Homo sapiens: one gene and its partners. The protein of the gene in region 1 purifies or fractionates together with the protein of each later gene. This does not show direct contact. Each region holds a gene or a part of one and is shown in the gene's direction. Other genes may lie near its edges.

Region 1 (3,500 bases):
CCCACACAGCCCCTCGCTGCAAGGGATGCTGGGAAAGGTCGCAAGGGATGCTGGGAAAGGTAGCATGTGACCTTGGCGGTCCTTGTCCAGCTGATCATTGTTTACTGTGAAAGGGAGAAAAGGGACATGGCATTGTGCTGAAACTCACAATCTCTGCCCTAAATGGTGCCTGGAAGAAATAAGTTGAGGGGCTTGTGCGAAGGGAAAGGAACTTCAGCCCAGCTCACCTGTGACCCCCTCCCTGACTCACCCTCTGCAGGACCCCAATGAGGATGAGCCAAACATCCGAGTGCTCCTTGAGCACCGCTTTTACAAGGAGAAGAGCAAGAGCGTCAAGCAGACCTGTGACAAGTGTAACACCATCATCTGGGGGCTCATTCAGACCTGGTACACCTGCACAGGTGGGCCGAGACCCAGACGAGGAGTGAGGAATGAGAGAGACCAAAGTTCCTGCCTCCGCTGGGCTCACATTCAGATGTGAGCTATCCAGTGTGGTGGCCACTAGCCAAACATGGCCAGTCAAAGTTAAATTAACTAAATATGCATTTCCTCGTTGTACTGTCTACATTGGACAGGGCTGTTCTGGATGAGAAATTAAACTAGTGAATTACATGGTGTGTCTAGTTTGTACAATGAAGAAAAAGGGAAAGGACCTAGCACGTGTTAGGGTGGAGTGAATGTGACTTTAGGGCAGAATGTAAAGGCATCACGTGACTTTGTTTTTTGTTTTTGTTTGTTTTTGGTTTGGTTTTGTTTTTGAGACGGAGTCTCACTCAATCGCCCAGGCTGGAGTGCAGTGGTGCAATCTCAGCTCACTGCAAGCTCCACCTCCCGGGTTCACACCGTTCTCCTGCCTCAGCCTCCTGAGTAGCTGGGACTACAGGTGCCCGCCACCACGCCCGGCTAATTTTTTGTATTTTTTTTAGTAGAGACGGGGTTTCACCGTGTTAGCCAGGATGGTCTCTATCTCCTGATCTTGTGTTCCGTCCACCTCGGCCTCCCAAAGTGCTGGGATTACAGGCGTGAGCCACCACGCCCAGCCGGCGTCACGTGACTTTTAAGCAAAAACTTGAAGGTCAGGGAGCAAGCCAAGACAATATGTCTGGAGGAATGTTCTGGTGGGGGCAGCCCTGTGGTTGATGTGTCCAGTGCCTTAAGGAGGAGCAGAGAGCCAGGTGTGGCTGCAGCTTTGTGTCTGGAGGACTGTTCCGGTGGGGACAGTGCTGTGGTTGATATAAGGAGGAGCAGAGAGCCAGGTGTGGCTGCAGCTCTGTGTCTGGAGGAATGTTCCGGTGGGGGCAGCCCTGTGGTTGATATAAGGAGGAGCAGAGAGCCAGGTGGGGCTGCAGTTCTGTTTCTGGGGGAGGTGGGCTCAGAGGTGGCTGGGGCTTTTCTTTAAGTGCAGTGGGGGCCACAAGTGGGTGCTGGACATACTTGAGCTTTAATAGGTTACTGTGGCTGCTGACTGAGCTTGGACTGAGAGGGAGGTGACTGAGAAGAGGGGGATGACTCTGATTGGGCTGGGGTAGGTGGTGGGAGTGAGGAGTCGCTAAGGGCAGTCCAGCTGAAGGTTTGGAAACGGAATGTAACAGATTAGAAAATAGTCTGACTGAGTGCGGTGGCTCACGCCTGTAATCCTAGGGTTTTCCAGTGCAAAGATGGGAGGATCGCTTGGGCCCTGGAGTCTGAGGCTGCAGTGAGCTCTGATTGCACGACTACACTCCAGCCTGGGCAAAAGAGCAAGACCCTGTCTCTTAAAAAGTACAAAAACAACAACAACAAAAACAGAGAGAGAGAAACCCTTCAGGATAACTCATGATATTGAAAGGGTGGAGCTGCTGAAACCGAGATGGGGAAGCTGAGGGGCTTGGGGTCGGGGGTGGGAGTTTCGTTTGTTACATTTGGACAGGTTGGGTCTGGTGGTGGGAGTGGCAGGTTGGCCCCAAACATGTGAGTCAAGTTGGAGGACAAGGTCTGGGCCACCTTTGGGGCAAGGCTCAGGGGCCAGGGAGAAAAGGATCTTTGAGGTTCTAAGGCCTCCCTTGGTGCCAGGAGGTCTTAGATTGATCTGGGCCTCAGAGTGGAACCCACGGGGAGGGGGCAAGCCAGCTGAGGGTGGCCTGGGCTGCAGGCGCACCCTTCCCGCTTTTGAGAAGTGTGTGTCCCTCCACCCTAGGGTGTTATTACCGCTGTCACAGTAAGTGCTTGAACCTCATCTCCAAGCCCTGTGTGAGCTCCAAAGTCAGCCACCAAGCTGAATACGAACTGAACATCTGCCCTGAGACAGGGCTGGACAGCCAGGATTACCGCTGTGCCGAGTGCCGGGCGCCCATCTCTCTGCGTGAGTGGTGGCAGGGAGAGAAGAGGGTGAGGGAGCTGTTCCTGGCGGGGAGCCGGGTGCACAGGTGTGTAAGGGCACGTAAGTCAGACAGTTGAGTGAGGCCCTGGGGCAGTGCCTGCTTGATATCTTTAGGAAGTGACAAGGGTCTGTTGCTGCCATTGTTTCATTTCTCACTGAAGCAGACTGAGGTTCCAGCCGTTCCGTGACTCACCCAGGTCACTGAGGAGCACCTGGAGGGCTGGGACCTGGCCTCCGCCTCCCCGTGTGAAAGCCTCATAGATGAGGACTAGGGAGAAGTCACACAGCACAGAAAGCCTCATAGACGGGGTCTAGGGAGAGTACACGGTTGTCGCCCAGTTGTGCACATGTGCGCGTCAGCTCTTCTTTCTAGAGAGTTGCTGGTGTTAATTCATGAAGTCCCTGCCTCGGTCCTACAGTGAGGCCCTGTTTATATCCCATTTTACTGATAAGAGAACAGGTCAGTGAGACGCTGGGACCACCTGAGGTCTTCCGGCTGAGGATAGGACATGTTCCCATGTCTCCCCGAGGGCTGTGGTCCATGGGAGGACAGACCATGAGGCTGGAAAGCTGTGTGGGGTTTTTGTGAGGCAGGGACACTCAGGGCCCCTCTGACCCTGCAGGGGGTGTGCCCAGTGAGGCCAGGCAGTGCGACTACACCGGCCAGTACTACTGCAGCCACTGCCACTGGAACGACCTGGCTGTGATCCCTGCACGCGTTGTACACAACTGGGACTTTGAGCCTCGAAAGGTGGGGGTTGGAAGGTGGGGGCATCCCCCTGGGGAGGGAGAGCAGGAAGGGGGTTGGGGTGTGGAGCCGGTGTACCCCTGGTTGGGTGTTGCCCGCTGCACGGGCCCTGGGTGGGTGTGAGAGGTGTCACCCGGCCGTGCCTGGCAGGTTTCTCGCTGCAGCATGCGCTACCTGGCGCTGATGGTGTCTCGGCCCGTACTCAGGCTCCGGGAGATCAACCCTCTGCTGTTCAGCTACGTGGAGGAGCTGGTGGAGATTCGCGTGAGGCTGGGGCCATGGAAGTGGGGGGCGGGGGCGCTGTGTCAGGTGGGCCCTAGGGCCGGGCCAGTACCCTCTTCTCCTCTGGGCCACGGGAGGTTCTGAGCAGAGGAGGGAGGCCACCTGCTTAGG
Region 2 (3,500 bases), on another chromosome or scaffold:
AGATGCTCCTGAACCTCAAATAATTTGAGGAATTTCTTGTTGCTTACATAAGATGAAACATTCCCTTTTAAAAAAACATGTATTTGTAGCTCCCTATGACTTTGTTTTATATTCTAGTTGAGTCATTGTAGGGAAAATGAAAATACCAACTATTGTATTTAACACTTTTAATTTACAGGTTCTCGAAATAAGAATGACAAGTGTATGTTCCTTTTGTATATTGAAGCAAATTCTATTAGTAATAGCAAAGGACAGAAAACAAAGAGTTCTGAGGATGGGTGTAAGCATGGAATGTTGATGGAGTTCTCACTTAAAGACCTTTATGCCATCCAAGAGATTCAAGCTGAAGAAAACCTGTTTAAACTCATTGTCAAGTATGTATGCTGTCATTTGAAATTTTATTACATAGATGCATGTTGGGGGTTCTCTTGGCTACAGGTAACAAAAAACTAGTCAAAATGGTCGGCAAACTACAGTCCATGTACCAAATACAGTACTCCATCCCCTTGAGTATGGCCTATGAACTAAGAATGGTTTTTATATTTTTTAATGGTTGAAATAAATTAAAAGAATATTTCACAACACATGAACTTATATGAAATTCAGATTTCAACTGGATATGGTGGCTCACGCCTGTAATCCCAGCACTTTGGGAGGCCGAGGCAGGCGGATCACTTGAGGTCGGGAGTTCGAGACCAGCCTGGCCAACATGGTGAAACCCTGTCTCTACTAAAAATACAAAAATTGGCCGGGCTTGGTGGCGGGCGCCTGTAATCCTAGCTACTCGGGAGGCTGAAGTGAAGAATCACTTGAACCCGGGAGATGGAGATTGCAGTGAGCCAAGATCGTGCCATTGCACTCCAGCCTGGGCAACAAGAGTGAAACTCTGTCTTTAAAAAAAAAAAAATTCTGATTTCAGTGTCCATAAATAAAGTTCTATTGGAACATAGCCACACTCATTCATTTACATAAGTGTGCTGCTTTTGTGCTACAGTGGCAGAGTTGAATAGTTGTGACAGAGAACATATATATGGCTCACATATTTTTGCTTTATCCTTTTATAGAAAAAATTTGCTGATCTCTAGTTTAAACAATACAGAATATTTACTATCTTATACAAGAAGTTTGTCACTCAACGGAAGAGTGAGGGAACAGTGAATTCCAAAGCCATTTCAATTAGTTCTGTGTAGGGTGTTGCTCATAGAGATTCAAATCGAATTAACATATATTCAAAAAGTATTTGATAATTTTATTTCCATGCTATTGCCATGCCGTGGAGAAGCAGCAAAGTATAGGCATTTTTTGCTTTAGTGGTTAAGAGCTTTTCTTTGGAGACAAACCTAAGTTAGACTCCTGCTTTGGGCATTTACTTCCAGTGTGATCTGGGACATATTACTTAATTTCCCCTTTATTTGTATCACCTTAAAATGGAAATAATAAGACTTACCTCAGAAGGTTGTTCTAAAGATTAAGTGGGATTTTATAATGTACTTAACATAACTACTGCAACATACTGTTACTTTTGATAATTTTTTGACAACTGTGGGGTAATTTTGAAGAAATAGGAGAAAATGAGAGAGACTGAATAATAGATATATCTAAGAGAGGTAAAGAACTGAGAACGTTTTGAAATGCATTGTATTATAAAAAGTGATCTTGGCCAGGCACAGTGGCTCAAGCCCGTAATCCCAGCACTTTGGGAGGCCGAGGCGGGTGGATCACCTGAGGTCAGGAGTTCGAGACCAACCGGACCAATATGGTGAAACCCTGTCTCTACTAAAAATAGAAAAATTAGCTGGGCATGATGGCAGGTGCCTGTAATCCTAGCTTCCTGGGTGGCTGAGACAGGAGAATCTCTTGAACCTGGGAGGCGGAGGTTGCAGTGATCTGAAATCGCGCCACTGCACTCCAGCCTGAGCAACAGAGCAAGACTCTGTCTCACAAAAAAAAAAAAAAAAAGTGATTTTGTCATGCTTTTCTGTTCAGTAGGCTCAGGTCTGTAAGAGGATTTGATGCTTTTTCTTTCTGGCTTTAATATGTTAATTAGCTGACTGAGTAAAGAATAGTGCTCCACAGGGGTTTTTTGTCCTTAAATCCTACTTCCCTCTGAATAAAAGCCATTCAGACCCACCCTGGAAGAGAGGCTGCTCTAACTTAGCGTTGCTGGGGTGGTCTTGGAGTGAGTCCTTTGAGCAGGTGGCCAAGGAAGCAACCTGGTCGACAATCCAAACATCTTTGGTTCCTCTTAACAGTTGTAAATTAAAACTGAACATTTTTAGTGGTCCCTCTTCTCCCATACTTATAGAAGAGTAAGTATGGAAAACTTTAGTTTTCTTCCCACAGTTTGCTTTTTCCCCCTCCATGTTTGTGATTTCAGCATCAAAACTAGAATTTTTCATGGTCCTCTATTATCAGTCTAGCAGAGATTGGCAAACTAGGCAGGCTGCCTGTTTTTGTAAGTCAAATTTTATTAAAACACAGCCCCACCCAGTTTACTTACATTACTGTTCACAGTTGCTTGCACACTACAAGTTGAATAGTTGTGACTGAGACAGTATAGCCTGTGAAGCTGAAAATACTTTCTGGCCCTTTAAGAAAAAGTTTGTCAACCCAGCCTAGGTGACAGTAGAAGTTTATGTTTTAGTTTAGGTTCCTTCAGAAGCAATGATTTGGATCAACATAGTTTACTTGGGAGGTGATTCTGGAGTTACTGGTAGGGAAATGATGGCAGCCAGTGTAGGTGCCTTAACGAACAGGTGACCCACTAGCATCTGGGACATAATCCTCCTGGGCCAGTGGAAAACTCCACTGTGGAAAGCCAGCTTCAGTATTTTTCCATTTAAGGGCCTACATTTGGGACTGCCCCCAGGAGTATTAAACACCTCAGCACTTCTGGCCTGCCCATCCTGCCTGCCAATGATGCTTGTGTGGCCATAGAAAGGTCTTTGGCAGACAGGTGCAGATGCCAGTAGGAAGCCGGAACATACTGAACAGTGAGTGCCAAGGGGATATGAGCACACCACCACCTCCTTCTGTGTTTACATATATTAAAAGGGAATAAAGACTCATGTTTTACTCCTGATTTTCTCTCCCACCCTATTTTTGTTTGTTCCTTGTTTATAAAATTGACAAATGTAAATGTACTGTTTTATATTCTTTCTCTTAATTTTTTTTAGAGACAGGGTCTTGCTGTGTTGCCCAGGCTGGATTGCCGTGGCACAATCAGAGCTCACTGTAGCTTCAAACTCCTGGCCTTAAGTTATTCTCCCACCTCAGCCTCACAAGTAGCTAGGACTAAAGGTGTATGCCACCATGGCTGGCTAATTTTTAATTTTTTTTTTTATAGATATCGGGGTCTCACTTTGTTGCACAGGCTAGTTTTGAACTTTTGGGCTGAAGCAGTTCTTCCACCTTGGCCTCCCAGAGTGCTTGCTGGGATTACAGGCATGAACCTGTAAACCAAAAATAAAATTCCAAGGCCCCCCACCCATTTAAACAGA
Region 3 (3,500 bases), on another chromosome or scaffold:
GGTGTAAAGTGAGAATAATGATTCTGCCCTGGACACCCCACAGGACTGAGGGGAGGGTCAGTGAGATGATGCAGGATCAGTTCCAGTTTACAAAGTGCTCTCATATAGGTGAGCCGTCCTCCTTTTCTGTTCTTTGTGGGTTTTTATTTTTCATGAGCTTCTGTTTCTAAGGTATATTTTGAAATGTAATATGAATTTGTAATTTGATGTATATAACATAGGTAAAATTAGGCAAGTATCTATTTAGGTATCTAATTGTGCAGATTCTTTTGTCACTGCCCTGCATTATAGCCATATCAGTTATTTTTTCATTGAAAGAATGCAGTTGTTATTTTTGTTGTTTTTCCAAATTCTTGTAGGATCTAATTTCCATTTTGCCGTTTAAAAAATTATTGTTCATACGATCTTTTAAAAGGATTTTTTTTTAAGTTTGCCTTCTGTTGAACTAGGAGTTAAGTACTTATTTTTCAACTTTTGTCTTTATAGGATCTTTAATGACTTGCTACTGTGGGAACCAACAGCTCCTTCACCAGTGGAGACATTCGAGAATATTTCCTATGGCATTGGGCTTTCAGTAGCCAGTCAGCTCATTAATACTTTCAACAAAGATAGTTTTAGTGCATTTAAATCTGCAGTTCACTATGGTAATATATTTTTAATTTGTTTTGATTTAAAATGCCTAGTTTATCAATTAACAAAGTACTAACCTTTGAATTGTGGATTTAAAAATCTTTATGTTTCATTGTAACTATATTTTGCAATTTCTTTTAGTAATTTATAAGAATATTTCCTTATTTCTATCTGTATATTGAGAATATCATTATCACTTAAATATGTTCTCTTTAGAATGATAGTGTGCACATTGTTTGAAGTTCAAAGCTAAAGAGAAAAACAGTATGTATTTCTGTGTTCACACCATATTCTTTGTAAAACTAAGCAGGTTATATAAAATATTTTCATGATCATTTTTATGTTGCTGTTTTAATATGCTATCAGAATGTAATTGTATGTTTATTTCTCATAGATGAGGAAAGTGGATCTGAGGAGGAGACTTTGCAGTATTTTTCCACTGTTGATCCCAACTATCGTTCTCGCAGGAAAAAAAAATTAGACTCTCAGAACAAGAACTCTCAGAGTTTTCTCTCAGTTCTTCTGAATATTAATCATGGATTAATAGCAGTGTTCACAGATGTGAAGGTGAGGTTTACAAATCCGAAGTGTTTTTTCAAATGTATCTTACTTTAAATAAATCTGCTAGGATACATATCTAGTGATTGAAGTATTTGATATTTTGAAGTTGTTTCAGGGACTGATGAAGACCAGTGTCCTGGGGCAAACCATGATGATAGCAACTTTGGGGATTTAGCTTTCGTTGCAGATCAAACTTTGTGGGGCTCTCCCTTTGGAAAACAGGTGCTAATTCTGCTTCTGGGGTGACAACAAAGTACAGAGATTCATCTGATAGAAGAGGTTCCACATAGCATTTAAGTTATCCAGTTTTATTTTATACCATGATATTGAATAGTTCAAGGATTAGACTGCTTTGCTGCAGTATGGGAGATTTTCCTAAGCTGAATCAACAAAGAGCATCTCAAGGAACATGCTTACTTTTCTGCATTTAAGTAATAACTTCTGTGTTTTTCTGATCTTTTTACTAGCAAGATAATGGAGATCTGTTGGAAAACAAGCATGGTGAATTCTGGTTAGAGTTCAATAGTGGTTCATTATTTTGTGTGACAAAATATGAAGGTTTTGATGACAAGCACTACATTTGCCTTCATTCTAGCAGTTTCAGTCTGTACCATAAAGGTAGGACAAACACGTGTCTTGGTTTCTTCTCTTTAGACATGTTTAAATTTCTTGTTTAACAAAGAAAATCTATTGAGAACAGAACTTTGGTATTAGAAATTATTTTCTGTGGAGGGCTCTCATTCTGCTGTCAAAGTAATATTTACAAATTAGAAGTCAACTTCAGGTTCTTTTTTTGCAATAGCTTTGTTGAGGTATAATTCACACACCATACTCATTTAAAGTGTACCTTTCAGTGGTTTTTAGTATTTCACAAGAGTTATGCAACCGTCACCATAGTCAATTTTAAAACATGTTTATTACCCCATGAAGAAATTTCATACACTTTAGTGATAAACTTTCACCCCTTCCGCTCTCTCCTTCCCGTAAACACACTAACCTACACTCTGTTTCTATGGATTTGCATATTCAGAAGTTTCTTATAAATGGAATCATACAATATTTGGCCTTTTTGACTGGCTTCTTTCATTTGACACGCTTTCAAAGTTCATCCAAGTTGTATCTGTACTTCATTCCTTTTTATTGCCAAATAATATTCCACTGTAAAGATAGATCACATCTTATGTATCCATTCATCAGTCGATGGGACTATATGTTCTTTATTCTTCTTTAAGGAATATTTCCTTTTGGTTCCAGATATAGAACCTACCATTTTTTGAGCAGTTACCTGAGTTTACCTTGTTTCATAGACATGAGATGTTTGTGATAGTTTTCTATTTAATTTTCCTAGCATTTCAGAATCTTTTGTTTCTTTAAGCTGTGTACGGTCAGTCACACTAACATTAGCAAAGAGGAGTGGATTATTAATGCCATGCTGGTTTTTGTCATCATGCCTCCTTAAGTTATATTCAGTGGAAGTACGTGGATTTTTGTTTTGAGTCATGTAAGTTGATTAGCTAATTTCAAGTAATCATTTTGTTACTATTTTTACCTCAATGTGGATCTCTAGGCATAGTGAATGGAGTGATTCTCCCGACAGAAACACGACTTCCCAGCTCAACCCGCCCACACTGGTTGGAACCTACTATTTATTCCTCTGAAGAAGATGGCCTCAGTAAAACTTCTTCAGATGGAGTTGGAGGAGACAGTTTGAATATGCTGTCTGTTGCCGTTAAAATATTGTCTGATAAATCAGAGTCCAATACAAAGGTTTGTGTTTTGTACTTTTATGCCACTGTTGATTTGATTCTAGCTAAAAATAATTACATAAAAGGCAACATATTTATTTTCTTGGAAAAACTTTTGAGTTATAGGATTACATAGGTGGTAAATGTCATTCTTTGTCTTGTTCTGTATAGGAATTTCTCATTGCCGTAGGACTGAAAGGAGCCACTCTCCAGCATAGAATGCTTCCTTCTGGGCTTAGCTGGCATGAGCAGGTAAGAGAGCTGTTATATATGTATTAATTTATTTAAAAATTTGTGTTGACATCTAATACACATACTGAAAAGTTTGTAAGTCATAAATGTTCAGCTCAGTGAATTATCATTAAGTGAATACTACGGTGTCACCACCTTTTAGGTTAAGAAATAGAACAGTATTGGCCGGGCACGGTGGCTCATGCCTGTAATCCCAGCACTTTGGGAAGCCAAGGCAGGTGGATCACCTGAGGTCAGGAGTTCGAGCCCAGCTTGGTCAATCCCGTCTCTACTAAAAATACAAAAATTAGCTGGGCGTGGTGGAATGCACCT
Region 4 (3,500 bases), on another chromosome or scaffold:
ACATTTTAATAGCTTTTTTGAGATATCATTCATATACTGTACAATTCACCTTTAATTTAAAGTGCACAATTCAGTCATTTTCTGTATATTCATAGATATGTGCCATCATGATCACGGTCAATTTTAGAACATTTTATCACTTCTAAAAGAAACCCCATACACTTTAGCTGATATCCCCCGTCTTCCATTCCCCATATGCAACTATTAATCTACCTTCTGTCTATAGATTTACCTATTTTGGGCATTTCATATAAATGGAATGATATGTGTTTTTGTGACTGGGCTTCTTTCACTTAGCTTAATGGTTTCAGGATTCACCTGTGATGTGGCATGTATCAGTACTTCATTACTTTATATGGCTGAATAATATTTTATTATATGGATATGTGATATTTTGTATATCCATTCATCAGTTGATGGACATGTTTTTTTTCCTCCTTTTTGGCTATTATGTATAATGCTACCGTAGACATTCTTATATAAGTGTATGTGTGGACATATGGATTCATTTCTCTTGGATGTATATCTAGGAGTAGAATTTTTGGGACATATGGAATTCTGTTAACCTTTTAAGTTTCTGCCAGATTGTTTTCCAAAGTGGCCTTCCTATTAGCAGTGTATGAGAGTTCCAGTTTCTCCACATCCTTATCAGCACTTGTTATTACCTGACTTTTTTGTAGTTTTGATTTGCATTTCCCTTATGGTTCATGCATCTATTCATGTGCTTCTTGGCCATTTGTGTGTCTTCTTTGGAGAAATATCTATTCAGGTCAAACTTTTGCCCATTCTTTAATTGGGTTATTTGTCTATTTACTATTGGATTGTAAGAATTCTTTATATATATGCATATTACATATATAATCCCTTATCAATCAAGGGATTGACAAGATACAGTCCCTTGACAAATGTGAGGTCATGAGGACCTACTATGTTTTCTTTGAGATTTTATAGTATTGCTATTACATGTAGGTCTTTGATCCATTTTGAGTTAATTTTTGTATACGATATGAAGAAAGGGTTCAAACTTTATTCTTTCGTATGTGACTATCCAGCACTGTTTTTTTTTTTAAATTTTATTGATTTGTGTAAATTTATAGAGTTCAAGTATAATTTTGTTACATTGATATATTGCATAGCGGTAAAGTCAGGGCTTTTAGTGTATCCATCACTGGAGTAGCCTACGTTGTACTCATTAAGTAATTTCTCTTCATCCACCCCACTCTCACACTCCCCACCCTTCCAAGATTCCACTCTCTGTCATTCCATACTCTGCTTCCACATGTACTTGTTGTTTAGCTCCCACTTGGAAGAATAGGCAGTTTGTCTTTCTGCAGCACCATTTGTTAAAGAGGCTGTTCTTTTCCCCATTGATTGGTCTTAGTACCCTTGTAGAAAATCAGTTAGCCATAGATATATGGGTTTATTTCTGGATTCCCAATTCTATTTCATTGATCTATATGCCCACCTTATTCCAGGAAACACTTTTTTTTTTTTTTTTCTGAGATAGGTGTCTCTTTGTTGCCCAGGCTGGAGTGCATGCAGTGGTGCAATCTCGGCTCACTGCAACCTCCACCTCCTGGGCTCAAGTGGACCTCCTATCTCAGCCTACCAAGTAGCTGGAACTACAGGCACATGCCACCATGCCTGGCTAATTTTTGTAGGTTTTGTAGGGATGGAATCTCACCATGTTGCCCAGGCTGGTCTCAAACTCTTGGGCTAAAGCCATCTGCCCACCTCGGCCTCTCAATGTGCTGGGATTACAGGCGTGAGCCACCATGCCTGACTAGGAGACACTCTTTTGATTAATATTGCTTTATAGTAAGTTTTGAAATGGGGGAGTTCTCCAACTTTGCTTTCCTTTTTCAAGATATTTTAGCCATTCTGGAGCCCCTTGCAATTCCATATGAATTTTAGATTAGCTTGTCAGTTTCTGCAAAGAAGCCAGCTAGTATTTTGATAGAGATTGTGATGAATCTGTAGATCAATTTGGGAGTATGGTCATCTTGATATTAAATCATCTGGTCCTTTTTTTTGTTGTTGTTGAGATGGTGTCTTGCCCAGGCTGGAGTGCAGTGGTGCAATCTCAGCTCACTGAAACCTCTGCCTCCTGGGTTCAAGCAGTTCTCCTGCCTCAGCCTCCAGTAACTGGGATTACAGATGCACACCACCATCCCTGGTTTATTTTTGTATTTTTAGTGGAGACGGGGTTTCACCATGTTGACCAGGCTGGTCTCGAACTCCTGACTTCAAGTGATCCACCTGCCTTGGCCTCTCAAAGTGCTGGGATTGCAGGCGTGAGCCACCGTGCCTGGCCTAATCATCTGGTTCATGAACATGGGATATCCTTTCATTTATAGTTGTGTCAATTAATGATGAGGATACATTCTGAGAAATGTTTCATTACAGTATTTCATTGTTGTGCAAACATCATATAGTGTACGTACACAAACCTAGATGGCATAGCCTACTACACACCTAGGCTATATAGTCTAACTGTTTGCTCCTAGGCTACAAACCTGTACAGCATGTTACAGTACTGAATACTGTAGGCAGTTGTAACACTGTGGTAAGTATTTGTGTTGGATACGTTTGTGTATCTAACACAAATACTTAGAAAAGGTATAGTAAAAATATGGTATTTTACATATATATGTGTATATATATATGTGTATATATATGTGTATATATATGTGTATATATATGTGTGTGTATATATATATATGTGTATATATATATATATATATTTTTTTTTTTTTTTTTTTTTGAGACAGAGTCTCGCTCTGTCACCGAGGCTGGAGTGCAGTGACACAATCTCCGCCCACTGCAACCACCGCTTCCCAGGCTCAAGTGATTCTCATGTCAGCCTCCTGAGTAGCTGGGATTACAGGTGTGTGCCACCATGCCTGGCTAATTTTTGTATTTTTAGTAGAGATGGGGTTTTGTCATGTTGCCTAGGCTGGTCCCGAACTCCTGACTCAAGTGATCTGCCCACCTTGGCCTCCCAAAGTGCTGGGATTAGAGGTGTGAGCCACCATGCTGGGCCGGTATTATAATCTTATAGGACCACCATTATGTATGTGGTCTGTAGTTGATGGAAATGTTCTGATGTGGCATACAACTGTAATTAGATCTTCTTTAAATTTCAATAATGTTTTATAGTTTTCAGAATTGCACTTTTTTTCTTAAATTCTTCAAAATACTGTTTTTAATGGTATTGTCAGTGGAATTATTTTTCTTAATTGAATGTTTGGGTTATTCGTTGTAGATGTTTAAAAACACTTGATTTTTATATATATTAATATTGTTTCTGAATCTCTTCTGAACTTGTTTATTCATCCTAGTAGATTATTTGTGGGTTCTCTATGATTTTCTTGTAAAGATCATGTCAAGGGCAAATATATATAGCTTTATTTTTTCTTTCCAATCTGGATGCCTTTTATGTATTTATTTATGGCTAATTGCCCTGGCTAGAACCTTTAGTAAAATATTCAATAGGAGGG
Region 5 (4,005 bases), on another chromosome or scaffold:
TCTGGCCAGAAATGAGTGGATAGATGGCAGCAAGGAATTTACACAATCATTATTTAGTGAACAGTGGAGGAGTAAGCAAGGTAGACAGAAGAAACGTCACTTAAACCTAACTTGGGTTAGTACAATAGGATTATTCGAAATGGACATGCAGCATTAGTAAGTTACTGAAGATGAAGTGCAATAACAATGTCTGGGTAGACAGGTTATTATTTTATAAACTTGAAAAACGACGACTTGAGGCAGGATATAACACAAAGACTCCCTAAATTCACACTGAGTGAACTGGGAAGGGAACATGATTCTCTTCATGGGAAGGTAGCTCATAAAGATGCCTGAGTGGAAAGACAGTTTTCAATTGAATTTGCAAGGTGGTAGTGGAGATCCCCAAAGCTGGGGAATGTAGAGACAGAGAACATAATGAGGGTGTTGAATCTGTGGCTCAGAGAATAAGTTTGGGGGTACTAAAGTGGGAGGAAGGAGGGTGGGGGGGGTCACAATTTTTACTCCCGGTAGTCTTGTTCTGGGAAGGTACAAGGTGAAATTAGAAGTGACCTCAGAACCCATCGACGTCTGCCCTTTAAGAGTTTCCCGGCCGGGCGCGGTGGCTCATGCCTGTAATCCCAGCACTTTGGAAGGCCGAGGCGGGCGGATCACAAGGTCAGGAGATCGAGAACATCTTGGCCAACATGGTGAAACACCATCTCTACTAAAAATAGAAAAATTAGCCGGGCGTGGTGGTGCGCGCCTGTAGTCCCAGCTACTCTGGAGGCTGACGCAGGAGAATCGCGTGAACCCGGCAGGCGGAAGTTGCAGTGAGCCGAGATCGCGCCACTGCACTCCAGCCTGGGGAACAAGAGCCGAAACTCTGCCAAAAAAAAGAAAAAAGAGTTTCCCGCACTAGCCATGCCAGGGTGGAGAAGTTCCAGCAAGCACTTCTGTTAAAGATACTTGTTTCGTGAAAACTATACAATGTGGCGTTTTCATTCCTATCTGTGATTCATTTCTTAAGTTCGTGGAGTTCCTTTGCTCCCCTTCCCCCAGCAGGATGTGGGCAAAGCTGTCCCCCTGCCTTCTTCCTTCGCCTGGGCTTCTGGAGCCTCCGGAGCTAGCTCCCGGCGCGGAGCTCCGCCTACGGCCCGTCCCCGGCGCGGAACCCCGCCCACGAGCCCGTTTCCAGCGTGGAACACCGCCCATAGCCCGTCCCCAGCGCGGAGCCCCGCCCCGCAGGCTGCCGGGGGCCCACCGCCGCCCAGGCAAGGCCGCCCTGCCTTGGGCGCAGCGCTGCCATGGCTGGGGGCCGTGGGGCCCCCGGGCGCGGCCGGGACGAGCCTCCGGAGAGCTACCCGCAACGACAGGACCACGAGCTACAGGCCCTGGAGGCCATTTACGGCGCGGACTTCCAAGACCTGCGGCCGGACGCTTGCGGACCGGTAGGAACGTGGCTTGTCAGGCCCGGGCTGGCGTGCCCTGGCCTCCCCGGGCCCTGGGCCAAAGCCCGGACACTTCCAGATTGGGCCGCCGCTTTAGGATCCTGCAGTCTTTTCATCCCTTAGGTTCCACCCATGCTCACTTTAGTCCTTGCACCTGCAGCTGGTCTGCAGAATCCCACCTAGGCCGAATTCTTCTACAGTCCTTTCCCCATGATTTCCCCAGAGGAATCCCCCTGGATTCCTCCCTCTTACCTGGCACTGCTTCTTATTCCTGCCTACATCCCATAACATAACTGCCTCCTTCCAACCTTGTCCTTTTTCCCCTCTGAAAGCCCTTGCGGATGATACCACAGCAATTCATACGCGCCCCTTGCTACTTTGTTCTGAGAACGCTTTTTGGGCTCTCGCACAGGCCTTACGTCCTCAATCAGAATTCTCAAGTCTCATCCATGCATTCAAATCTGCACGCCACATAATTCCCTCTGTACTCCCCAGGCATCCTCACTGTGTTTTCCGGTATGGAGGAACTTTCCATACCTCTGCACCTTCCTCTAAGACATTTAGCTCAGAATAAAGCACACATTCATCTTAGCTGTAGTAGAGAGAGGGTTCTAGACTGAGTCTAGAGAAGGAGTGTCCAATCTTTTGGCTTCCCTGGGCCACACACAAAATACACTAACACTAAGGATAGCTGATGACCTAAAAGAAAAAAAAAATTCGCAAAAAAACCTCAATGTTTTAAGAAAGTTTACGAATGCGTGTTGGGCCACATTCAAAGCGGCCCATGGGCCTCGGGTTAGACCAGCTTGCTCTAGCTCTAGACCTTTTAAAATGGCATTTTGTTTAAAATAATATTTTGCCTTTTTGTCTGGAAATTAAGGCACGTTATAAAGTATTTATACTGACAGTTTTTTCCCCATCCTTGAAGAGTTGATCTACCAAACTATTTCTGAATATTATCATATTATCATTTAAAACATAGTTCTAACTTCATCTGCTTTTTTTTTTTTTCTTTTTGAGACAGGGTCTTGCTCTGTCTCCCAAGCTGGAGTGCAGAGGCATGACCACGGCTCACTGCAGCTTATTCTCAAGCAATCCTTCTGCCTCAGCCTGTCAAGTACCTGGGACTACAGGCACATGCCACTACACCTGGTTAATTTTTTTAATTTTTTGTAGAGACAGAGTCTTGCTCTGTTGCCCGGGCTGGTATCAAGTTCCTGAGCTCATGCAATCCTCTCACCTTGGCCTCTGAAAGTGCTGGGATTACAGGTGTGGGCCACCGCGCCTGGCCTCTTCATCTGCTTTTAACTTTGGCATTTCACAACATCTGCTCTATCTACACATCCAGGATTTCCTCAAGAAATACCATCTTCTGGAGCTATCAGGACAAAATATTCTCTCTCAAACTCAGGGTGCTTCTTCCTTCATTAAATATTTGTTTTAGGCATTAGGAATACAGCTGTGGGCAAAACAGACAAAAATCCTTGCCCTCAGGGAGCTTACTTTTCTAATGCTTAATAATATGAAGTTATTTTTAACCTGAAATGGTAAAAATATAAATTATTCCCCTTAACATGACAGAGAAGTTGGTGACTGGGGAACTTCTATCTTCCCAAACCTTGAGAATCAGGAAGTAGGCCCAAGAAGCAGCCAAAATAGGTGTCTCAAAGTGTACATGGGACTCAACACAAAGCTCCTAAGGCTTCATTCTGAACTAGTTTGTTTACTTTATACAAGCTTAGTTGTCTGCTCCTAGGGCTGCAGAAAAATGGAAGAGAAAAAGCAACTTCTTTTAGGTAGGGATATTGATAACCTCAAGAATTTATAGCTGGTGGCTTTCATAACAAGATGGAATACTAGACAAACCAAAGCAAAAACTATAGAAGGCAGGCAGAAGAATTTAAATAGCTGTCTGTGGCCTATTGTACACCGGGCAAATGGCCTCAACACATTCATAGGACTGGCAGGCAAATAATTGATGGTCTCAAGGATGAATCAGAGTTTAGTCATTCAACAAGCACTTATTATCACCTGCTATTTGCCAGGGAAAAGTGATGCAGGTCCAAAATCCTTTATCCAAAACTCTTTATTGAGAGGGAGTTTCTCTCTGTCGCCCGGGCTGGAGTGCGGTGGAGCAATCTCGGCTCACTGCAACCTCCACCTCCCAGGTTCAAGCGATTCTTGTGCCTCAGCCTCCTGAGCAGCTGGGATTACAGGTACCCGCCTCCACACCTGGCTAATTTTTGTATTTTTAGTAGAGATGGAGTTTCATTATGTTGGCCAGGCTGGTCTCGAATTCCTGACCTCAAGTCCTCCCGCCTCGCCTCCCAAAGTCCTGGGATTACAGGTGTGAGCCACCGTGCCCAGCCTTTTATCCAAAACTCTTGAGACTTGATGGGTTTCAGAATTCAGAAGTGCTTCTGTTCACGTTTATGTGTGCACATTCCACACATTACCTAATACCTTCCTCAGTGTCTGGGGCAGCATCGAAAATCAAACACAATGAAACATAGAAATACTCAAATTTCACACTGAACAAATAAACACTATAACTAACCTCATGTCAGTTCAGGCT
Region 6 (4,282 bases), on another chromosome or scaffold:
AAAGATGGCAACTGAAATCTTGAACCTAACAGTTAATTAAGGTTACTTCGTGAGGATTAAATATTAGAATTCTGCTCCGCCCCCCACCAAAGGATACCGGTATTTTTACTAAAATATATTTTTAGGTTTGTTTTGGCATATTCTTTTCAAAGAGATTTGAAACTCTTAAATTGTTATAATTACAAAATCTTATATTTGAACTTTCAAAACATTACTCATTTTGAAGTAGAATCTAAAACTACATTTAAAAACATTTCTGCCCACATTTGGTCTGTTTAAGGGACTAACCTTTGAACACACTAGTCTTATTTTGAAAGGGCAAGGTGTTTTTTTTTTTTAATAGCCAGTGCCCCACAGAAGAAAAACTGTGACACCCCCCCCCCACAAAGTGCTCATATATATCACCTGTGTTTGTTAGCAATGTTACCTCCAACTTTGTTATCTTGGAGTAATTGACGAGTAAATCATTACAAATGGGTCCAACTCTAAAGGCAAAATCGTCAAAAAGAAGAAAACAGCAAATCCAACTTGCCTTATGTTTATTAGAGGAAATCCTGAAACTTCTGTAGATTGCAGTGTTAGGAAAAACAAGTTTGTGATTACAGCGATGTTATGACCACTTCCCCACTCTAACTCTGTTGTTTAAGGGAGTCCACTCCTAACTGCTGACTCAGTTTGTCTTTACTGCCAGAACTGAAGCGTGACCCAAATTGTCTGCTGGGTTGAGTAGGAACAAACGGGCAAAATGATGATCACTTGGCAGTTCTAGGTTTACTAAAGGATACTTATTTGGTCTAAACACTGTTTGTGGGACTGCAAAGGTATAAATAATGCCCCTCCCAGGAAGGAAAAGGAAAATCTAAAATCTTAGGCAACCGACTCAAGGTCACTGACGGAAGGCACCATTTGAGACCGAGCTCCTCAACTACAGTCCCATCACGGACGGGAGCCACACAGGAGAGCGTGCAGGAGTTTCGAAGCTGCGTAGTACAATAGCTGGCGTGGGCAGTTCTTTTATACTCTGGCTAGAGTAAAATTAACGCACCTTTGCGTTTCTCCATCGCCTCTGACAGCATCCAGCTAAAGGGTGTAGGGTTAAGGAAAGCGGAACCCAGTTGTCCTTTCTCAGCTGAGTCCTTTCAGAAACTGGGACTGAGGAGGGTGAGCGCCGCGGAGAGGGGCAGGGGTGGGAGAGGAGAGAGGGGCGCGGGGCGGGGAAGAGGCGCGTCTGGAAGGCAGTGGGGAGAGGGACTGAGAGGAGTGGGGTTGAAGTCCAGCTGGGAGCATCCAGCGGCGCTGTCTGCAGACAGGGGCGAAGGCAGCCGCTGAGAGTGAGGCAAGAGCGGGAAGCCGAGGGAAGGGAAGGAAGTAAGGAAAGAGGAAGGAAAGGCAGGAGGGGGTAGAAGCTGAGCGGCTGCAATTTCTGCGGCCGGCTCAGTAGGAGGAGCAGGAGGGGAAAGAGGAGGATCCAGTCAGTCAGTCAGACAGCCAGCGGGAGGTGGAGAAAGCAGGAGGAGGAGGAGGATTAAAGATGGCCACCAACAGCTGCGGGAAACGGCAACAACCCCTCACTTTCCGGGATGGTCCCTGCGGGTCGGCCCGGCCTTGATGGAGAGAAGAAACCCGAGGAGCGCCGAGGCTGAGGCGGCGGCGGCGGGGACCCAGCGAGGACGAGGACGCGGCGGAGCAGGGACGGGGGCAGGAGAAGGGAAAGGCGGCGGCGTCGCTGCCCCTGCTGCCTAGCACCGCTGCCTGGCCCGGCGGACCGGTTCCCATACCTCGCGGCCGCAGAATCGAGCTCGGGCCCCGGCCCCCGGCCCGCGGCGCGGGGCTCCCGGGCCCCGCCGCGGACGTCGCGCCGGTCGCCCCTTCCCCGTAGCCCGTGCGCCCTCGGCGCGGAGCCCCGGCCCGCCGCGGTCCCGTCTCCTGGGCCTGTCCCGCCCGCGCCCTCCGCCGGCCCTCAGGTGAGTACCCCCGCCATCCTCCCCGCCCCCCGCGCTCCCGGAGAGGCGGTGCTGCCTCGGCCCGGCGCGCCTGGCCGCTTTGTTCGTGCGGGGCGGAGGCGCTGCCCACTCGCGGCCCTGCGCCCGCTCCCCCTAGGGACAGGCCGCGGCCCAGCTGCTGTCCTCCCCAGGGTCCGCCTTGGCCGGGAGCCGCCGCCGCCGCCAGGGTGGGCGGCCTGGCCCTAGTCCTCCGCTGCCTCCTGGGGAGGGCGCCGTCGCGGACGGGTCGGGGTCGGGGTCACGGGCGGCGAGCGGAGCGGAGCGGAACCGGGATATTTCGGGGGATAGGGGAGGAGAGGGCTGGACGTTACCTGTGGGAAGCAGTGGGGGCGTAGGCGGCCCTGGCTCGCAGGGGTAGGGGATCAGGCCCTGGCCCCCCCCCGCTGCATCCTGCGGGGTCTCAGCTCCCGGAGCCACCCGGACCTGAGCGCAGCCGAGCGCGGCCTCCATCCCTCGGGCGCTGTCTCCAGGGCTTCGGGCCTCTCCCCCTACGCCCTACGCTGGAAGCCCTTCGATTATGGAAGGAGCCAGAGATGCTCCAGTTCTCTTGTACTGGGGATGTGGTGGCATCGCAAACATTCACAGTTACGGCGGGATTTAAGAAGCAGATGAGACCTTTCCAACCAAAGGCCATCTGGCTAGTGTTTGAGCCTCAGGTGCAGTTTTTCATTGATTTTTACCATTTAATTGTGAGATCTGCAATATCAGGTCTTCCTTTCACAGAAACAATGTGATACAACCAGATTGAAAGGATATTTACTGCATATGTGAACCCTTGCATGGACTTCCAGTACCTTAAAAATGGTTAAGTGTTTTCTGTTGGAAAATGGTGCTCATGCATACGAAAAACTATTTTTGTTCAGTAATGGTTGCCAACTGGTTTACTATGTAGTTTGAACACCAAACAATTAAAAAGGAAAAACAAAACCCTATTCTTCGGGCTTTTTAAATAGTGGCATATTTCCAGGTTGGTATTTGGTAGCAGGTTGAGAACAACTGGTTTCGACTATCAGGCGACGTAACAAACATAACATAAAACAGAACTAAAAATGTGCTAATTTATAGAAAAACATGTTGTATTAGTGCATAAGTCTAGTAAAAAAATCCGACTTTAAAAAAAATAAAACTTTATCATGAGACTCTTAAGTATAGGAATTAGGTTGGTATGTTTTTATGTTTAAAAATATATATTGCATTAGAATTGAGAACTCTTCCTATGATATTTGAGCAATAGTAAAGTATGTTAATACTTTGAACCATTCTATCTCAAGCTGCTAGAAAGAGGTTTCTACTGCTAGTTTCTTTCCATGAGTTAAAATGGATTCATCTGAAATATATGTATGCTTTTGGTGGGTCACAGTGGGTCATGCCTGTCATTCCAGCACTTTGGGAGGCCAAGGCTGGGGGATCACTTGAGGCCAGGAGTTAGAGACCAGCCTGGGCAACAAAGAGAAAACAATTTTTGTAAAGAAAAAAAAAAATGTTTCAAAAAATTTGTATCACCTCCAAAAAGGAGGGATAAGTTAGAAAATACAATGTTCTACTCTTGCATAATCTGTTTTTGAAAAAGTAAATGACAGTATATTTCAATATTAGTTGGATTCTCTGCTTTGAAGAGATTCTTAAATTCCACTGCTCAACTTTGCAATTTTAAAAGTTTACATCAGTTGTTCTTAATTTATTTATTTATTTCTTTTTTTAGAGACAGGGTCTTGCCCTGTTGCCCAGGCTGGGGTGTAGTGGCACGATCACGGTTCACTGCAGCCTTGAACTTCTGGGCCCGAGTGATCCTTCTCCCACAGCCTCCCAAGAAGTTAGGACTACATGTGCATGCCACCATGCCTGTCTAATTTTTCTATTTTTTGTAGAGATGAGGGTCTCCCTGTGTTGCTCAGGCTGATCTTGAACTCCTGGCCTCAAGTGATCCTCCTGCCTTAGCCTCTCTAAGTGCTGGGATTACAGATGTGAGCCACCATGCCCTGCTTCTTTCTTAATTTCATGCATATACTTCTGAGGGTCCTTGGCTTCCCAGAAATCATATGCAGAATATAGCATATATTTGCTTTTTTCCTAGATAAAGACTCTGTTGGGTGATCACATTCTCAAAAGGATATGGGTCTGTAAAAGATTATGAACTTCTAGATATAAAATTAAAGAATACATATTCCATATTTGGAAAGCTAAAATTTTTAAATTACATTTGATGATTTATGTCCTTCATTTCTGATTATGCCCAAGAAATGTTTGTGATTAAGAGTTCAGCACATAGACGTTGTTTC
Region 7 (3,500 bases), on another chromosome or scaffold:
AGGTAATGGGATCAATGATCCTCATCATTGGGTATTTATTGCATGTAAGCTTTGATATAGTACTGAGCATGTTGTTACAGAGAACCTTGGAAGGATAAGACCCAGGGGACTGAGGTGGTGGGGTGTTGGGTGTAGAAATCCCTCTGCTGTTAGCTTCCATTAAGGGCTTTGTGTTGAACTCAGGAGTTAACCTATTTCTGTGGTTCTAGTGCAGCTGAAGAAGCATCTGACTTCTCTTTCTCTTTTCTATCTTGAGGAGTAGCTGAGTTTCTTCTTAAGAAATGGAGACATTCTTACTCAGGGCTTTAAGATACCGTTTTTTTGTGTGTGTGATAATACCTGTCTACAGTCCTGGTCATTGTACTTTTGTGGCATATTAAATACTTACAACAATTCCTAGGTGTTATGTATTCTCTGGGACATGGAAACTGAAGAAGTTGAAGACATACTGCAGGAGTTTGTAAATAAGTCTCTTTTATTCTGTGATCGGAATGGAAAGTCGTTTCGTTATTATTTACATGATCTTCAAGTAGATTTTCTTACAGAGAAGAATTGCAGCCAGCTTCAGGTACTTGCATCTTGGTTTACTTTTTTTTTTCCTTTTTCCTTTGAAATAATTTTAGATTTATTGAAAATTTACAAAATAGTAGATAGTTTCTGTGCATAAGTCCTTCACCTAGCTTCCCCTAATATTAACATTTTATATAACCATAGTACAGTTGTTAAAGCCAGAAAATTAACATTGATACAATACTGTTCACTAACCTACGTGTTCTTTTTGTAGTCCAGGCCAATTTAGGATCCCGTATTGCATATGATTGTCTTGTTTCCCTACTTGTCATTTTTTTCCGTCTCCTCAAATCTGTGAAAATTTATCAGTCTTTATCTTTCATGGCCTTGTCACCTTTGAAGAGTACTGGCTAGTAATTTTGTACAGTATACCCAAATTTGGTTTTGTGTGATGTTTTTCCTGACTAGATTGAAGTTATAGATATTTGGCAAGAATACCAATGATGTTGTATCTTTCTCAGTGGCGTCATAGGCTGAGAGTACTTGGTGGTTTTTAAAAAATTTTTTGTAGAGATAGTGTTTTGCCATGTTGCCCAGGCTGTTCTTGAACTCCTGGGCTCAAGTGATCCACCTGTCTTGGCCTCCCAAAGTGCTGAGATTGTAGGTATGAGCCACTATTCCCAGACTCCTGGTGTTGATATGTTTTATTATGGGTGATGTTAATGTTGATAATTTGTTTAAAGTGGTATCTGCCAGGTTTCTGCACTGTAAAGTCATTATTTTGTGGGGAGATTCTCTGTATATATATATGTATTTTTTTTTTTTTGAGACAGGGTCTTACTGTGTTGCCCAGGCTGGCATGCAGTGGCTCACTGCAATCTTAAACTCCTGGGCTCGGTTGGTCCTGAGTAGCTAATTCCCGAGTAGTTGGGTCTGCAGGCATATGCCACCACACCTGACTGATTTTTTTTATTTTTTATTTTTTGTAAAAAAATTAAATATACGGATATCTCTCTATGTTGCCCAGGCTAGTCTCGAAGTCCTGGCCTCAAGTGATCCTCCTACCTTGGCCTCCCAAAGTGCTGGGATTACAGGCGTGAGCCACCGAGCCCGGCCTCTCTGTACATTCTTAATAGCTTTGGAAGCTGAAGTTACTGTGATGCTTAGGTTATAAAATTGTTTCTGGCTTCTGAAACGTTTCATTGGGTTGCAGGATCTACATAAGAAGATAATCACTCAGTTTCAGAGATATCACCAGCCGCATACTCTTTCACCAGATCAGGAAGACTGTATGTATTGGTACAACTTTCTGGCCTATCACATGGCCAGTGCCAAGATGCACAAGGTAAGATGACCCATTTAAAAATTCTTTTATCTGACTTCCCTTTTTCCATATGTATTACAAATAAGTGCTTTTTTTCTGTTATTTTTTGTCTTGAATTTTGTTCATATTGCTTTCCATTTGATTTTTTTTTTTTTTTTTTTTTTTTGAGACAGGGTCTCACTTTGTTTCTCAGGCTGGAGTGCAGTGGCACAATCTCAGCTCATTACACCCTCACCTCCTGGGCTCAAGTGATCCTCCCACTTCAGCCCCCCATGTAGCTGGGACTATAGGCACATGCCACCATGCCTGGCTAATATTTTTGTATTTTTGGTGGAGATGGGGTTTCACTATGTTGCTCAGGCTGGTCTCAAACTCCTGAGCTTGACGTGAGCTCAAGTGATCCACTCGCTTCAGCCTCCCAAAGTGTTAGGAGTACAGGCATGAGCCACCGCGGCTGGCTGAAGATTTGAATTTTTATGTAGTTAAATTTACCACTGTTGTTGTCGTCGTTGTTTGGTATTTTGCTTTGCTGTCCTGTTCATAAACATGTATTGTTTTATTAGTATAATTTTTTATTAGTAAAAATGGGATTATAGCTTGCATAATTATTTTTGTTTTTACCTGTAGTGATTAGAAAAGGTACCTTAGTAACTAGTAAATGAACCACCTCAGAATTAATCCTCTTCTTACTAGTAGCTTTCCTTTTTGGGCAGTATGGATTTGTTTTGTAAGCTTTGAGAGGAAATGGATAGTGGAAAAGTATATTCATTGATTCAATAAATATTTATTGAGTGCTTGTTATGTATATTGCTCTTCATTAAGAGGATAAAGCACAGGCACAAAGTCATTGCTCTCACGAGTTTATGTTCTGGGAGGAGGCAGACATTAAACAAATTTATTATATTTCAGTGGGTAGTTAAGTGCTCAGAAGAAGGACAGAGCATGGAAGGGGAAAGAAAGTGATGATAGAGGGGTAGAATCATCATGATTTGCTTATGGGTTTGGTATGCATTATACGAGAAAGAGAAGAATCAAAGATGACTCCAAGAATCAAAGATGACTCAAACCCCAGTGGAAAGAACGGAGTCCATGAACTGAAACAGGGGTCTTTGGGAGAACAAGCTTTTTCCTGCAGAGAATGGGGATGGTTAAGAACTCATTTTGGATATATTAAGTCTGATATACCTATTAAGGCATCTGGCTGGAAATATTGAATAGGCAGTTAGATATATGAGTCTAGAATTCTGGGGAGAATTATAGATGAAAGATGAAAATAAGGAATTATTAGCACATAGATGGTATTTGATTGAAGTCATGACTACCAAGTAGCTACTAAAAATGTTTACATTTGGAAAACCATATGTACTTTCAGTAAATTTTCTATGCTCAGGTATGTTATTTCTTGGTTATGATACATAGTAAATTGTTGTAGTTTGTTTTTTTATCTAGCAAAATATATTTACATTTAATAGTGTATATTGGAATGATGGTATTCCAATAAATACTTGTGCCCTAATTTACTTAACCAAACTCTAGTTATCGAACATTTAGGTTTTCAGTTTTTTTGGTCCTTATGATGTAATGAGCATTCTTGTTTATCTTTGTACCTATGTTGTTTCCTTGGCAAATTCCGAGAAGTAGAATTACTGAGCCAATGCATCTTTTT

What was found.
Region 2: the proteins of DEF8 (region 1) and MCM8 purify together in Homo sapiens (affinity purification with mass spectrometry; 2 studies listed by BioGRID and IntAct, with this or other methods). This does not show direct contact.
Region 3: the proteins of DEF8 (region 1) and ATG2B purify together in Homo sapiens (affinity purification with mass spectrometry; 2 studies listed by BioGRID and IntAct, with this or other methods). This does not show direct contact.
Region 4: the proteins of DEF8 (region 1) and ALMS1 purify together in Homo sapiens (affinity purification with mass spectrometry; 2 studies listed by BioGRID and IntAct, with this or other methods). This does not show direct contact.
Region 5: the proteins of DEF8 (region 1) and EIF2AK4 purify together in Homo sapiens (affinity purification with mass spectrometry; 2 studies listed by BioGRID and IntAct, with this or other methods). This does not show direct contact.
Region 6: the proteins of DEF8 (region 1) and WDFY3 purify together in Homo sapiens (affinity purification with mass spectrometry; 2 studies listed by BioGRID and IntAct, with this or other methods). This does not show direct contact.
Region 7: the proteins of DEF8 (region 1) and APAF1 purify together in Homo sapiens (affinity purification with mass spectrometry; 2 studies listed by BioGRID and IntAct, with this or other methods). This does not show direct contact.

Annotation. Positions count from the first base shown.
Region 1 is NC_000016.10:89,958,755-89,962,254, forward strand, and holds part of DEF8 (differentially expressed in FDCP 8 homolog), read left to right. Parts: intron 1-259; coding exon 260-401; coding exon of another isoform or gene 402-481; exon of another isoform or gene 482-612; intron 613-2,176; coding exon 2,177-2,341; intron 2,342-2,982; coding exon 2,983-3,110; intron 3,111-3,257; coding exon 3,258-3,371; intron 3,372-3,500. UniProt on the Homo sapiens protein: Positively regulates lysosome peripheral distribution and ruffled border formation in osteoclasts. Involved in bone resorption.
Region 2 is NC_000020.11:5,967,652-5,971,151, forward strand, and holds part of MCM8 (DNA helicase MCM8), read left to right. Parts: intron 1-178; coding exon 179-374; intron 375-3,500. UniProt on the Homo sapiens protein: Component of the MCM8-MCM9 complex, a complex involved in the repair of double-stranded DNA breaks (DBSs) and DNA interstrand cross-links (ICLs) by homologous recombination (HR).
Region 3 is NC_000014.9:96,314,842-96,318,341, reverse strand, and holds part of ATG2B (autophagy-related protein 2 homolog B), read left to right. Parts: intron 1-486; coding exon 487-644; intron 645-1,024; coding exon 1,025-1,197; intron 1,198-1,658; coding exon 1,659-1,809; intron 1,810-2,758; coding exon 2,759-2,958; intron 2,959-3,107; coding exon 3,108-3,188; intron 3,189-3,500. UniProt on the Homo sapiens protein: Lipid transfer protein required for both autophagosome formation and regulation of lipid droplet morphology and dispersion.
Region 4 is NC_000002.12:73,392,336-73,395,835, forward strand, and holds part of ALMS1 (centrosome-associated protein ALMS1), read left to right. Parts: intron 1-3,500. UniProt on the Homo sapiens protein: Involved in PCM1-dependent intracellular transport. Required, directly or indirectly, for the localization of NCAPD2 to the proximal ends of centrioles.
Region 5 is NC_000015.10:39,932,910-39,936,914, forward strand, and holds the start of EIF2AK4 (eIF-2-alpha kinase GCN2), read left to right. Parts: upstream 1-1,205; 5' UTR 1,206-1,286; coding exon 1,287-1,430; intron 1,431-4,005. UniProt on the Homo sapiens protein: Metabolic-stress sensing protein kinase that phosphorylates the alpha subunit of eukaryotic translation initiation factor 2 (EIF2S1/eIF-2-alpha) in response to low amino acid availability.
Region 6 is NC_000004.12:84,963,891-84,968,172, reverse strand, and holds the start of WDFY3 (WD repeat and FYVE domain-containing protein 3), read left to right. Parts: upstream 1-1,482; 5' UTR 1,483-1,964; intron 1,965-2,314; exon of another isoform or gene 2,315-2,557; intron 2,558-4,282. UniProt on the Homo sapiens protein: Required for selective macroautophagy (aggrephagy). Acts as an adapter protein by linking specific proteins destined for degradation to the core autophagic machinery members, such as the ATG5-ATG12-ATG16L E3-like ligase, SQSTM1 and LC3.
Region 7 is NC_000012.12:98,665,790-98,669,289, forward strand, and holds part of APAF1 (apoptotic protease-activating factor 1), read left to right. Parts: coding exon 1-2; intron 3-400; coding exon 401-568; intron 569-1,723; coding exon 1,724-1,855; intron 1,856-3,500. UniProt on the Homo sapiens protein: Oligomeric Apaf-1 mediates the cytochrome c-dependent autocatalytic activation of pro-caspase-9 (Apaf-3), leading to the activation of caspase-3 and apoptosis. This activation requires ATP. Isoform 6 is less effective in inducing apoptosis.